Regions from separate parts of the Homo sapiens genome. Here region 2 is linked to region 1. Evidence: fine-mapped expression QTL. A gene starts in region 1. The other region holds a variant in brackets. All regions are shown on one strand. Distances are from middle to middle. Region 1 holds the start of TNFRSF25 (TNF receptor superfamily member 25). Region 2 has its middle 6.8 kb from the start of PLEKHG5.

What was found.
Region 2: its variant is fine-mapped to the expression of TNFRSF25 in whole blood (TOPMed, PIP 0.99).

What each region holds. Positions count from the first base shown.
Region 1 is chr1:6,464,159-6,469,515 of GRCh38, reverse strand. TNFRSF25 (TNF receptor superfamily member 25) reads left to right here and starts at 3,343. Exons shown (of 10, transcript NM_003790.3): 1 at 3,343-3,447; 2 at 3,956-4,076; 3 at 4,294-4,428; 4 at 4,797-4,964; 5 at 5,063-5,141. The coding sequence starts at 3,409. PLEKHG5 (pleckstrin homology and RhoGEF domain containing G5) reads left to right here. Exons shown (of 21, transcript NM_020631.6): 18 at 66-181; 19 at 275-474; 20 at 930-1,691; 21 at 1,944-2,394. The coding sequence ends at 1,953. RefSeq lists an enhancer at 2,574-3,522.
Region 2 is chr1:6,495,794-6,501,150 of GRCh38, reverse strand. It overlaps a transcript of PLEKHG5 not described here. Among named protein-coding and RNA genes, the nearest start is that of PLEKHG5, 6.8 kb to the right of the region's middle. RefSeq lists a silencer at 3,282-3,371 and an enhancer at 5,075-5,357. The variant G/A (reference allele first, on the strand shown) is at 2,484.

The sequences.
Region 1 (5,357 bases):
TCAGGGGCTGTGATGGGTGGGGGCCATCGTCTCTGCTGACACTGACTTGGGCCTTCCCTAACCAGGGTCCTTCCTCCTTATCTACCTGAATGAGTTTCACAGTGCTGTAGGGGCCTACACGTTCCAGGCCAGTGGCCAGGCCTTGTGCCGTGGCTGGGTGGACACCATTTACAATGCCCAGGTGAGTGCAGAGTAGTGAGTGGGTGGGCAAGGCAGATTAGGGAGATGCTGGTCACAACCCATTCTGTCCCATGTACCCCAACCTTGCCTGCAGAACCAGCTGCAACAGCTGCGTGCACAGGAGCCCCCAGGCAGTCAGCAGCCCCTGCAGAGCCTGGAAGAGGAGGAGGATGAGCAGGAGGAGGAAGAGGAGGAGGAGGAGGAGGAGGAGGAAGGCGAGGACAGTGGCACTTCAGCTGCCAGCTCCCCTACCATCATGCGGAAAAGCAGCGGCAGCCCCGACTCTCAGCACTGGTACGTCTGCTCATGACCACCCAGCAGGTCAAACCAGGACAAGTACTCTAGCCCAGGACTCCTGAAGGCCCAGCCACGCTCCCTTCCTCCCAATGGCCTCTTGTCATGAACACTGTGGGAGCGGGGCTCTGTCTCCCCCAGAGTCCGGGTGGGGAGGGCAGACACCTTTCCATGTGCTGCCAGCCCTGATCCATTCGTGGTAGCTGCCTGGGGTGCTGTGCTGAGGATCCTTAGGGCAGATCCAGCCTTGGCAGGGAAGAGTGCTGGGCTCGCTACTGAGGTCTGTTGTGGGCACTGGAGCTGGAAGATCTGCCACACCTGCCACATGCTGCCATCTCTGAGCCTCCAGCCCCAGGAGGGCAGAGGGTATAAACCACCGTGCATTGCCCAGCCTGGGGCTGCCTCAGGCCATCTAGGTTTCATGGCCTGGGCTGACTCTGCTCCTGGCCCCACAGTGCCTCAGATGGCTCCACGGAGACCCTGGCCATGGTTGTGGTAGAGCCTGGGGACACGCTGTCCTCCCCCGAGTTCGACAGCGGTCCTTTCAGCTCCCAGTCTGATGAGACCTCTCTCAGCACCACTGCCTCATCTGCCACGCCCACCAGTGAGCTGCTGCCCCTGGGTCCGGTGGACGGCCGCTCCTGCTCCATGGACTCTGCCTACGGCACCCTCTCCCCAACCTCCTTACAAGACTTTGTGGCCCCAGGCCCAATGGCAGAGCTAGTGCCTCGGGCCCCAGAGTCCCCACGAGTTCCTTCCCCTCCACCCTCGCCCCGTCTCCGCCGCCGCACCCCTGTCCAGCTGTTGAGCTGCCCGCCCCACCTGCTCAAGTCTAAGTCCGAGGCCAGCCTCCTCCAGCTGCTGGCAGGGGCTGGCACCCATGGGACACCCTCTGCCCCCAGCCGCAGCCTGTCAGAGCTCTGCCTGGCTGTTCCAGCCCCAGGTATTAGGACTCAGGGCTCCCCTCAGGAAGCTGGGCCCAGCTGGGATTGCCGAGGGGCCCCTAGCCCTGGCAGCGGTCCTGGGCTAGTCGGCTGCCTGGCCGGGGAACCTGCAGGCTCCCACAGGAAGAGGTGTGGAGACCTGCCCTCGGGGGCCTCTCCCAGGGTCCAGCCTGAGCCCCCACCAGGGGTCTCTGCCCAGCACAGGAAGCTGACCCTGGCCCAGCTCTACCGAATCAGGACCACCCTGCTGCTTAACTCCACGCTCACTGCCTCGTGAGTGGCCTGGACTGGGGTAGGGCAGGTGGCTCAGGGCACTGGCATGGGGGCCCACTCATGCCTGGGAGCATCGCATTTGGGGAGGGTCATGGCGGAGGGAGCCTGAACCCTGCCCAGTGTCTGGGCGCAGGGGGCTGTGGTGGGCAGCAGTGAAGGGGCCTGAGGAGTGCCGTGGGGAAGAGAGGGTGACCAGAGCCACTCTGAATGGCGTCAGCCAAAGAAGGACTCTGTCCCCTCCCCACCCTGTAGGGAGGTCTGAGCAGAGGGAGGCCCCCAAGAGTGCCATTGACCAAGAGACAGCAGACAGCCTGCCTCCTGGGGCGTGCCGGCACCTGCTTCAGCTACTGCCTCCTGTATGCATGAGCCGGATGCTGGGCAGGATCCCTGCCTACGCCCGGGCCCGATTTGCGCTTTGCCGGACTGGATGGAGTGGAGGAGGCCCAGGCCACAGTACCACCCCACCTGCCCAGGCAGCCCCTCGTCACCTACTCCCCGAAGTTACCAGCTCAGCTCGAGTCTTCAGGGCTGGGCTCCTAGGCTGCCCATCCTACTTCTACCCTCACTGGCCTCCAGTGGGATTCACTCCTGCCCTGCCCCCACCTTCCCAGTCCCACAGGCCACCCCTGGCTTGGGCTGGGTTCTGTGAAGTTACGTATTTATTGAGCTTTTGGTTCTTTTATAAAGACTTGTCTAGACTCCACTGGGAAGAGTCCTTTGCTTTGGGGCCCAGTGACTCGGGGCACTTGAGTTCAGGGCGGCCTCCTTGTGTTCCTGTGCTCCTCCACTTGCCACGGATGGGCCACGGATGGAGCTTGCCATGGGAAGCACTGGGAAGTAATGGGGTGTGGGGTGCCACCAGACCAACACCCCCAGACTTCCCCACCTTCAGCCACCATCAGAGCCTCTCCCCAGGTGCCCCCCGGGGATTCAGGGCTGAATCTGCCCAGTTCCCACACTCAGGCCAGCCCTCTTGGGAAGGTGGGTCCTCCATGGGGGTCCCTTCAGGAACTTTTTTTTTTTTTTTAATACAGAGTCTCACTCTGTCACCTAGGTTGGAGTGCAGTGGTGTGATGTCGGCTCACTGCAACCTCTGCCTCCCGGGTTCAAACGATTCTCCTGCCCCAGCCACTCTAGTAGCTGGAACTGCAGGTGTGCACCACCACGCCGGGCTAGTTTTTGTATTTTAAGTAGAGACGGCATTTCACCATATTGGTCAGGCTGGTCTCGAACTCCTGACCCCAAGTGTTCCGCCCGCCTCTGCCTCCCATAGTGCTAGAATTACAGGCCTGAGCTACTGCGCTTGGCCCCTTGCGGTACTTTTGGCCCAACCTCCTCCATGGCTGGGGACGCGGAGGCCGAGAGAGAAGTCACTTGCCCTGGCTCTACCTTGAAGTGGTTCTCAGGGTTGGGGCGAGAGTCGGGGTGGGGACCGAGATGCAGCTCTATCCTGTGCCCCTGGTCGCAGCAGGCAGCCCAGCGCTTCGCGTGTTCTACTTGGCCTGTCCGCTGCCGCCTAATGAGCTCAGGTCTAGGCCGAGCAGAGGGGGCACCTGGTCGGACTCGGTTGGGCTCGGGCGGCCCCGCCTCCCCCCGCCCGCCAGGCGGGCCCTTCTCGACGGCGCGGGGCGGGCCCTGCGGGCGCGGGGCTGAAGGCGGAACCACGACGGGCAGAGAGCACGGAGCCGGGAAGCCCCTGGGCGCCCGTCGGAGGGCTATGGAGCAGCGGCCGCGGGGCTGCGCGGCGGTGGCGGCGGTGAGTTGAGACGCAGGAGGCTAGGGGCAGCTTTGAGCCCTGTCCCAAGAGCCTCGGTGAAGGAAGGGGCCCCGGGCGCGTCTCCACTCCAAGCCTCACTGGGGGCTGGGTTGGCCGCCCTTTCCGATCTCGTTAAAGGCTCCTCCAGGGCGTAGCCCTTCCACTGAGAGGAAACCCCTCCCAGGAGGGTCTGGGGGCCCCAGGCAGAGCATTATCAGTGTCCCTCCCCCAACAGAAAGCATGGGTGGGGGTGGGGGCGCTGCTGGATTCCTGCTCTGGTGGAGGGGAAACTTGTGAGGGGCTGGTAAGCGCCCCCTCCGAAGCCTGGTGTGTGCGCGGGGGGAAGGAAGTTAGTTTCCTCTCCACCCATGGGCACCCCTTCTGCCCGGGGCCTGGGAAGTGGGCTGCTCTGTGGGCAAATGCTGGGGCCTCTGAAATGGAGGAGACGCAGCAGGGAGAGGCCCCACGTGGGCAGCTGCGCTGAGAGTCAGCAGCACCTGTCCCCCAGGCGCTCCTCCTGGTGCTGCTGGGGGCCCGGGCCCAGGGCGGCACTCGTAGCCCCAGGTGTGACTGTGCCGGTGACTTCCACAAGAAGATTGGTCTGTTTTGTTGCAGAGGCTGCCCAGCGGGTAAGTGGCCACAGGGGTGGGAGAGGCATGGGGCAGGCAGGGCTGGAGAGGTGGCGGGCAGGCCCGGGAGGTAAGAGGAGGCTGGCAGGGGAGGTAGGGGTAGGCTGACAGAGAAGTAGGGAGCTGGAGAGAAAGAGGGAGGGAGGGCAGGGTGGGAAGCAGGTCGGGGGTTGCTGGGCAGCCCCTCTGCCTGCCTGACCCCTGCCTGGTTCCACAGGGCACTACCTGAAGGCCCCTTGCACGGAGCCCTGCGGCAACTCCACCTGCCTTGTGTGTCCCCAAGACACCTTCTTGGCCTGGGAGAACCACCATAATTCTGAATGTGCCCGCTGCCAGGCCTGTGATGAGCAGGGTGAGGGGCTTCTCAGTGCTTGGCAGGGAGTTCCTAAGGACAGGCCTTTCTGAAGGAAGTGGCTGGCTCGGGCCCAAACTTGGGGTGTGAGGGTCCTGCACCCACCCTTGCCAGAACCCTCCACCCTGATCCTCCTTCAGGGTGCCCTTGCCCCTTCTCTCTTCCTGGTGACCTTCCCATCTCTCCATGTGCCTTGGCCTCTGGTCGGCCTTAATCTCTGAGCTTCTCTCTTTTTTAGGGTAGCCCTGTACCTGTCTGTCTTTCGCCTATTTCTGTCTCCATTATCTTGGGATAATGCCTCTGCCTCTCCATGGGAGCCTTTGGCCCTGACTAACTCTCCACTCCCCATCTCCCTGCACCCCCACCAGCCTCCCAGGTGGCGCTGGAGAACTGTTCAGCAGTGGCCGACACCCGCTGTGGCTGTAAGCCAGGCTGGTTTGTGGAGTGCCAGGTCAGCCAATGTGTCAGCAGTTCACCCTTCTACTGCCAACCATGCCTAGACTGCGGGGCCCTGCACCGCCACACACGGCTACTCTGTGAGTACCCCCACCCAGGGCTCTCTACTCCCAGACCCCCTTCTCCCTGCCTGACCCACTCCTGTCCCATGGTGACGCATGCCTCTCCTGGATTGCAGGTTCCCGCAGAGATACTGACTGTGGGACCTGCCTGCCTGGCTTCTATGAACATGGCGATGGCTGCGTGTCCTGCCCCACGTAATTCCTAGCTGTCGTGGGATGGAGGGAAGGGCGGCTGGGAGCAGAGCAGGGGCCTGGGGTGGGGCAGGTGCTGCTGGTTCAGGAATAGGAAGAGGGGATAGGGAGGAGGGAGCCTTGGCCCTGTGATGGGTGGGCCCCACTTCAGGCAAACTTAGATGGCAAAAGAGCAATCTGGATCCGCCTTAGCCAGATACATAAGGGTATTTGCCTTCA
Region 2 (5,357 bases), 32 kb before region 1:
GAGCTGGAGCCGTCCAGAACATGGGTCCAGAGCTGCCGGGCTCCTCTGGTTTGTCAAGAGAAGCCAGAAATATGGACTTTTATGTGAAATCTCCTGACTTTTCAAAGTTGGCAACCAATTTAAATTCTTCCGAAACCCTGTTCTCAGCCAAACAAAACATGTCTGCCGGCCGTTCTGCCCGCGCCCCGAGGCCCAGTTCTGGTAGAGATCATGTTCAGGACAAAGCCCAAGTGGCCTCCTGCGACTGAGACAGGGTCGGGGGAGAACTGGCGAGTAGGCTCCTCTGCCTGGCCAAGGGCCCTGGTCTCCCTGCGACGGGAGGTGGGGGAGCCAGGAGGGCAGCTGGGCTGTTGCGCACGTGGGGAGGCAGTGTCTGGCATGCAGTGGCGGGAGCTCAGGGTTCCAGGTCCGCCTAGGGACGAGTGGAGTGCAGGGTTCCAGGTCTGCCTCAAGGGGGGTAGTTCATGGTTCCAGGTCTGGCTAGGGGTGGGGGGAGTTCAGGGTTCCAGGTTTGCTTAGCGGAGGGGGTAGTTCAGGGTTCTAGGTCTGCTTAGGGGAGGGGGGAGTTCAAGATTCCAGGTCTGCCTGGAGGGGAGGTTCAGGGTTCCAGGTTTGCTTAGCGGAGGGGGGAGTTCAGGGTTCCAGGTCTGCTTAGGGTCGGGCTGAGGTCGGGGAGCAGACACCGCTTAGGCTGGTCCACATAAGAGGGGTTGCTACGAAGAGGCAGGGCTCCCAAGGGAAGCCCGGGGCAGGCAGAGGAGGCCGCCCCCCTGCCACCCCGAGAGCTGCCCACTCTCACAAAGCTGCCTTCTCCTGCCCTGTCTGCTCTGGGGTGATTTCCACTGAGGGGCTGCTCCCCTTTTTCCTGCTCCCCAACAATCTTGGGGCATCGTACCTATTTGGACTGACTCTCAGTGGACTCAAGTCTCCAGGGCCCAGTAGTAGTCCTGCCTGTGGGCTCCTATCAGGAAGGGGATCGGAATCATGTTTCCTTCCCAGGCCTGTCTCAATTCATAGTCTCAGGAGAGCAAATCTGACTGGCTGAGCCAGGCTATGTAGATGGCTCAACAACTATAATCTCAGCACTTTAGGAGGCCAAGGCAGGAGGATCCCTTGAAGCCAGGAGTTCGAGACCAGCCTGGGAAACATAGTGAGACCTCCGTTGCTATAAAAAAATTAAAAAGTTAGCCAGGTATGGTGGTGTGCACCGGTGGTCCCAGCTACTCGGTAGGCTGACGTGGGAAGATCACTTGTGCCCAGGAGGTCGAGGCTGCAGTGAGCCCTGATCACAACACTGCACTCCAGCCTGGGTAACAGAGCAAGACCCTGTCTCAAAAAATAAATTTTAAATTAAATTAAATTAAGAAAAACCCAGCTATGTCCAGGGTACGCTATCACCTGATACAGTATGTCCCCCTTACCAGGCCCACCCTTTCCTCGAAGGCTGTAGATGGGGATAGGTCACCTGCAGGAGAGCTCATGACAGGCCTATGGTGGGGACTGCTTGTCCTGACCTCACCCCCAAGCCCCACAGGCCCCACTCTGGGCCCTGAGAGCTACCAGGGTCCTGATGGATTTTTCTTCGTGTCTGCAGTCTCCAGGAGAGAGGAGCTCGCCTACGCAATGCAGGAAGTTGCAGCTTTAGAGCAGAGCCCAGAGGGAGCTACCTCCCAGGGGAGCCAGGACCAGGGGATCAGGAGTGTAGGGTCTAGAAGGCAGGGTGAGCACCTGGAGCCTGCTGAGACCAGGGGTCAGAGGCCGGAGAGTTCAGGCAGGTAGACCCCAGTGCCAGGAAGTACCAGGCAAAGGACAAGGAATTCCAGAACCCAAGTGGCATAGAGGCCACAGGATAGTCAGGCCCGATGGTGGCTGTGACCTGAGCAGTCATGGGGGGATCTAGGGAGCTGGTGAGGCAGACCCAGTGGCAGAAGACATGGCCCGGAGCCTTCAGAATACGGGGCTACAATCCAGAGGCCCTGGGGCAAAGGGTGTGAGAATCCAACCCCAGGCTCAGAGTTTTGAGAACGCAGGGGCCTGGAAACTTTCTGGGCGGACAGCAGATGTTGTCCTGCTCAGCTGGAGAAGTCCCAGGCTGGACGCATGGGAAACTCCCACAAAGCTGGCTGAGGGCTCCAGGTCCCCGTGGAAACACAGATGGCAGAGGAGGGCCTGCTGGAGTCATGGCAGACAAAAGCCCCGAACCCCACTCCACCCTCAAGTCAGCTTCCTCCCAGCAGGCAGGGACCTCGCCACAGTCCTCACAGGGCCGTCTCTTGCCTCGGCTGCCTCCACCTCCAGCCTAGAGGCAGGACAGGCATCGCTGGCCCCTTGGATGGCTGAGAGCAGAGACTCGGAGAGGGAAATGAGCACAGTGTGGGGGTGAGGCTGGGCTGGGCCTGAGGATCCTGAGAGTTCCCGTAGGCTGTGCACTGAGGAGGCCCAGGGCCCCGGGCAGCTGCTTCCCTCTCAGCCTGGAGGCCCCC[G/A]GGGTGCCTGTGGCAGCCCCTCCTCGAGAGCCCCCTCCCCAGGGTCATGCAGATGTGCTGCCCCCCAAAGGGCTACCCTGCCCACCAGGCCCCCTGTGAGCTCCCCAAGTCTTGTCAGGGTCACCAGTGAGTCCCCAGCACCCAGCTTAGAGCTTGGCTCATGGGGATCCTCAGAGGATCTTTAGTGTGTTTGCTGAATGAATCCAGAGAGCTCAGGAGACCCGGGATCCGTGCTACTTTGCTGTGCCAGGAGTCCTTGGGGCAGGCACCAGTTTCTGGTCACCTGTGAGTCCCAGGGCCGGACCCAGCCCATGTAAGGAGTCCATGCAGGGAGGCTCCAGCTGAGAGGCCTTCCAGTGAAGGGGTCAGGGAAGTCCACCCTTAGCCTTTGGGAGAGGGACCCGGCCCTGCTGGAAGCTGCATCTTCTATACCTAGGTCTTGTCGGCGCAATGCCTCCTGGTGCCAGTGTGCAGGGTGGGCTGGGGGTCCAGAGGCAGGCTCAGGAGCACTGAGCCCCCGCAGACTCTTGGCCACCTCTGCGAGGCTGTTTCTGTAGGGCAAAGGGTTTGCTATCTCCTGATGCCATTTACATAAACTACAGGACCGGGCAGACGAATCGATGTGTTGGAAGTCAGGGCGGCGGTGCCCTTGGGGGGACCGGTTGGCACGAGGGAGGTGGCGGGGGCTGGGGACTGGGTGGGGACGCTCTGCAGCTCGGTCTGGGCACAGGTTATTTTGTGAAAGTTTCCTGAAAATGTGTTGAGCTGTGCTCACAGGACAGGTGCACTTCTCTGTCCGCGTTTGCACTTCAATAAAGTTTAAAACTGAACCAGCAGAGGACATGCAGCAAGAGCCGTGGCAGGCGAGTCTCTCCCGGTGACAGCCCTCACCCTGCGCGGGGCAGCCTCCGTGTTGCCATGGAAACTGACCTCGGAGACAGCGATTCCGGGCTGGGGTGGGGGCTCTGCGTGGCTCCCGGCCTGCATTCCTGCGGACAGGCACCCTCCGCGTGGATGGCACCCTCCAGGACAGAGCCGTGCGCGCTTCCTGAGCCGCCCCGGTGCCCGCCCTCCGGGAGGTGGAGGCAGCCTCCGGACCGCAGCGCGCAGGGGCCGGGGAGCCGGGGAGGGAGGGGTGACACCGTCGGCGCCGAGGCCCGGCCGCGCTCCTGTCCCCCCGCCCCCCGCCCCCGAGGCGGGGCCGCCGCGGCTCCTCCCCGCCCACCTGCCCCGCCCGCCTCCCGTGCGAGGGTCCGGCGGCGGCGGCTCTGCGGCCTCCCAGTCCCCGGCGTCCCCGGCGCCCCCGCCCGCCGCCCGCCCCCCGCGCGGCACGGGGCCTGCTCCATGGGTGAGTGCAGGCGGGGACCCGGCGGACGCGGGGCGGGGTCCTGGGGGGCCGGGCCGGCTCCTAACCTCCTCCGGGGAGGGCCCGCTCCAGGCAAGGGGGTGGGCGCCGACCGGGCTTCGGGCCGCTCGTACCCAAACTCGGCCCCCAAGTCGGGGCCTGCCTCGGCAGCACCCCGCTTCTCCTCCCTCCCCCCGCCTCTCGCTGGTTGCGCCGCTCTGCCCCCACCGCGGTGCACTCCAGCCCCCAGGAAGAGAGGCAGCTTGGAGGGGGCCAAATTCAGGGTCAAAGATGAGTCTTGGGGAACGGGGGTCGCCCCAGACCTTCGGGGGCTCCTCTGTCTCTAAAGGGAGCGATGCAGGGCGTAAGGTTCTCAGGGATCTGGGATCTTGGAGCCCCTTCCCCCCAGCAGCCCTGCCGGGACCCCCTGGGAAGTCTGGGGCCCCAAAAGGTCACTGAGCGCTCCCCCACTTGTCCCCCAGACTAGAGGGACAGAGGGAGAGAGCAGCGTATTTCCAAAGATGTTTTCTCCCCGTGGAATCTGGATAATTTCCCTGAGGACTGCAGGAGAAAAGGGCTCTGCAAACGGATTCCCGTGCAGATAAGTTGGCATTTAAAAGAGAAAGGGACGCTGACCTCTTTTGAAGGGAGGACTGAGGAGATCACCCCACCCCTCCTCCGGTTGGGAGGCCAGTGGGGCCCAGGGGAGCCTGGGTGCCCCGCTGACTGATGCCCTCTGCTCCTCCCCTGCAGACGACCAGAGCCCCGCTGAAAAGAAGGGACTGCGCTGTCAGAACCCCGCCTGCATGGACAAGGGGCGGGCGGCCAAGGTAGGGAGGCTGGAGAGCCTGGGGACCCTCGGGGGCAGAGGGGCCAGGGCTCTAACTGCCCTTTCTATCCCAGCACCAGCTATCCACAGAGCCCTGGCACGGGCGCGGCTGGCTGGGCTGGGTTCAAGTGTAGGTGGGGCCACAGTGTGTCTGGTTTAGGAGGCAGAGGGCCTGCCCCCAGCTCAGGAACAGTGGAGTCGGGGGACTTCTACAAGAACAGGGGGGTGGAGTACCCCAAAGCCCTTTGCTGCACTGTGGTCCTAGCAGCCATTCTGAGGTGACAGGAGCTGTAGCCTTATGTCACGGATGAGGAAACTGAGGCTTAGCCAGGGGAAGTGGTCTCCCACGGTGCTGGTCCAGTGCCCAGATGGCACCCTTCCTGTTGAACTCAGCCACTCTTCAGGCCTGGGCATGGGTCTGAGATGCTTTGGGACTTGGCGAGTGTGACCATGGCCCTGGGGATGACAAAAGGAGGAAGGGGCCAGTTGATCCTGGAGTGCCAGGGCTTGGGAGCTGGGAGTGGGGCGAAGTATAAATCAGGGATAAAGGGGGCAGGAAGGAGGATAATAGTACTGGCTGGGCGCTTCTGCCTGTGATGTGCTGGGCTTAGTGCCACCCGCTTTCTGTGCCATATGCACTGATTGCGGCAGCTCTGCAGGGAAGGCATCGTCACCCCGTTTTCCAGATGAAGACACCAAG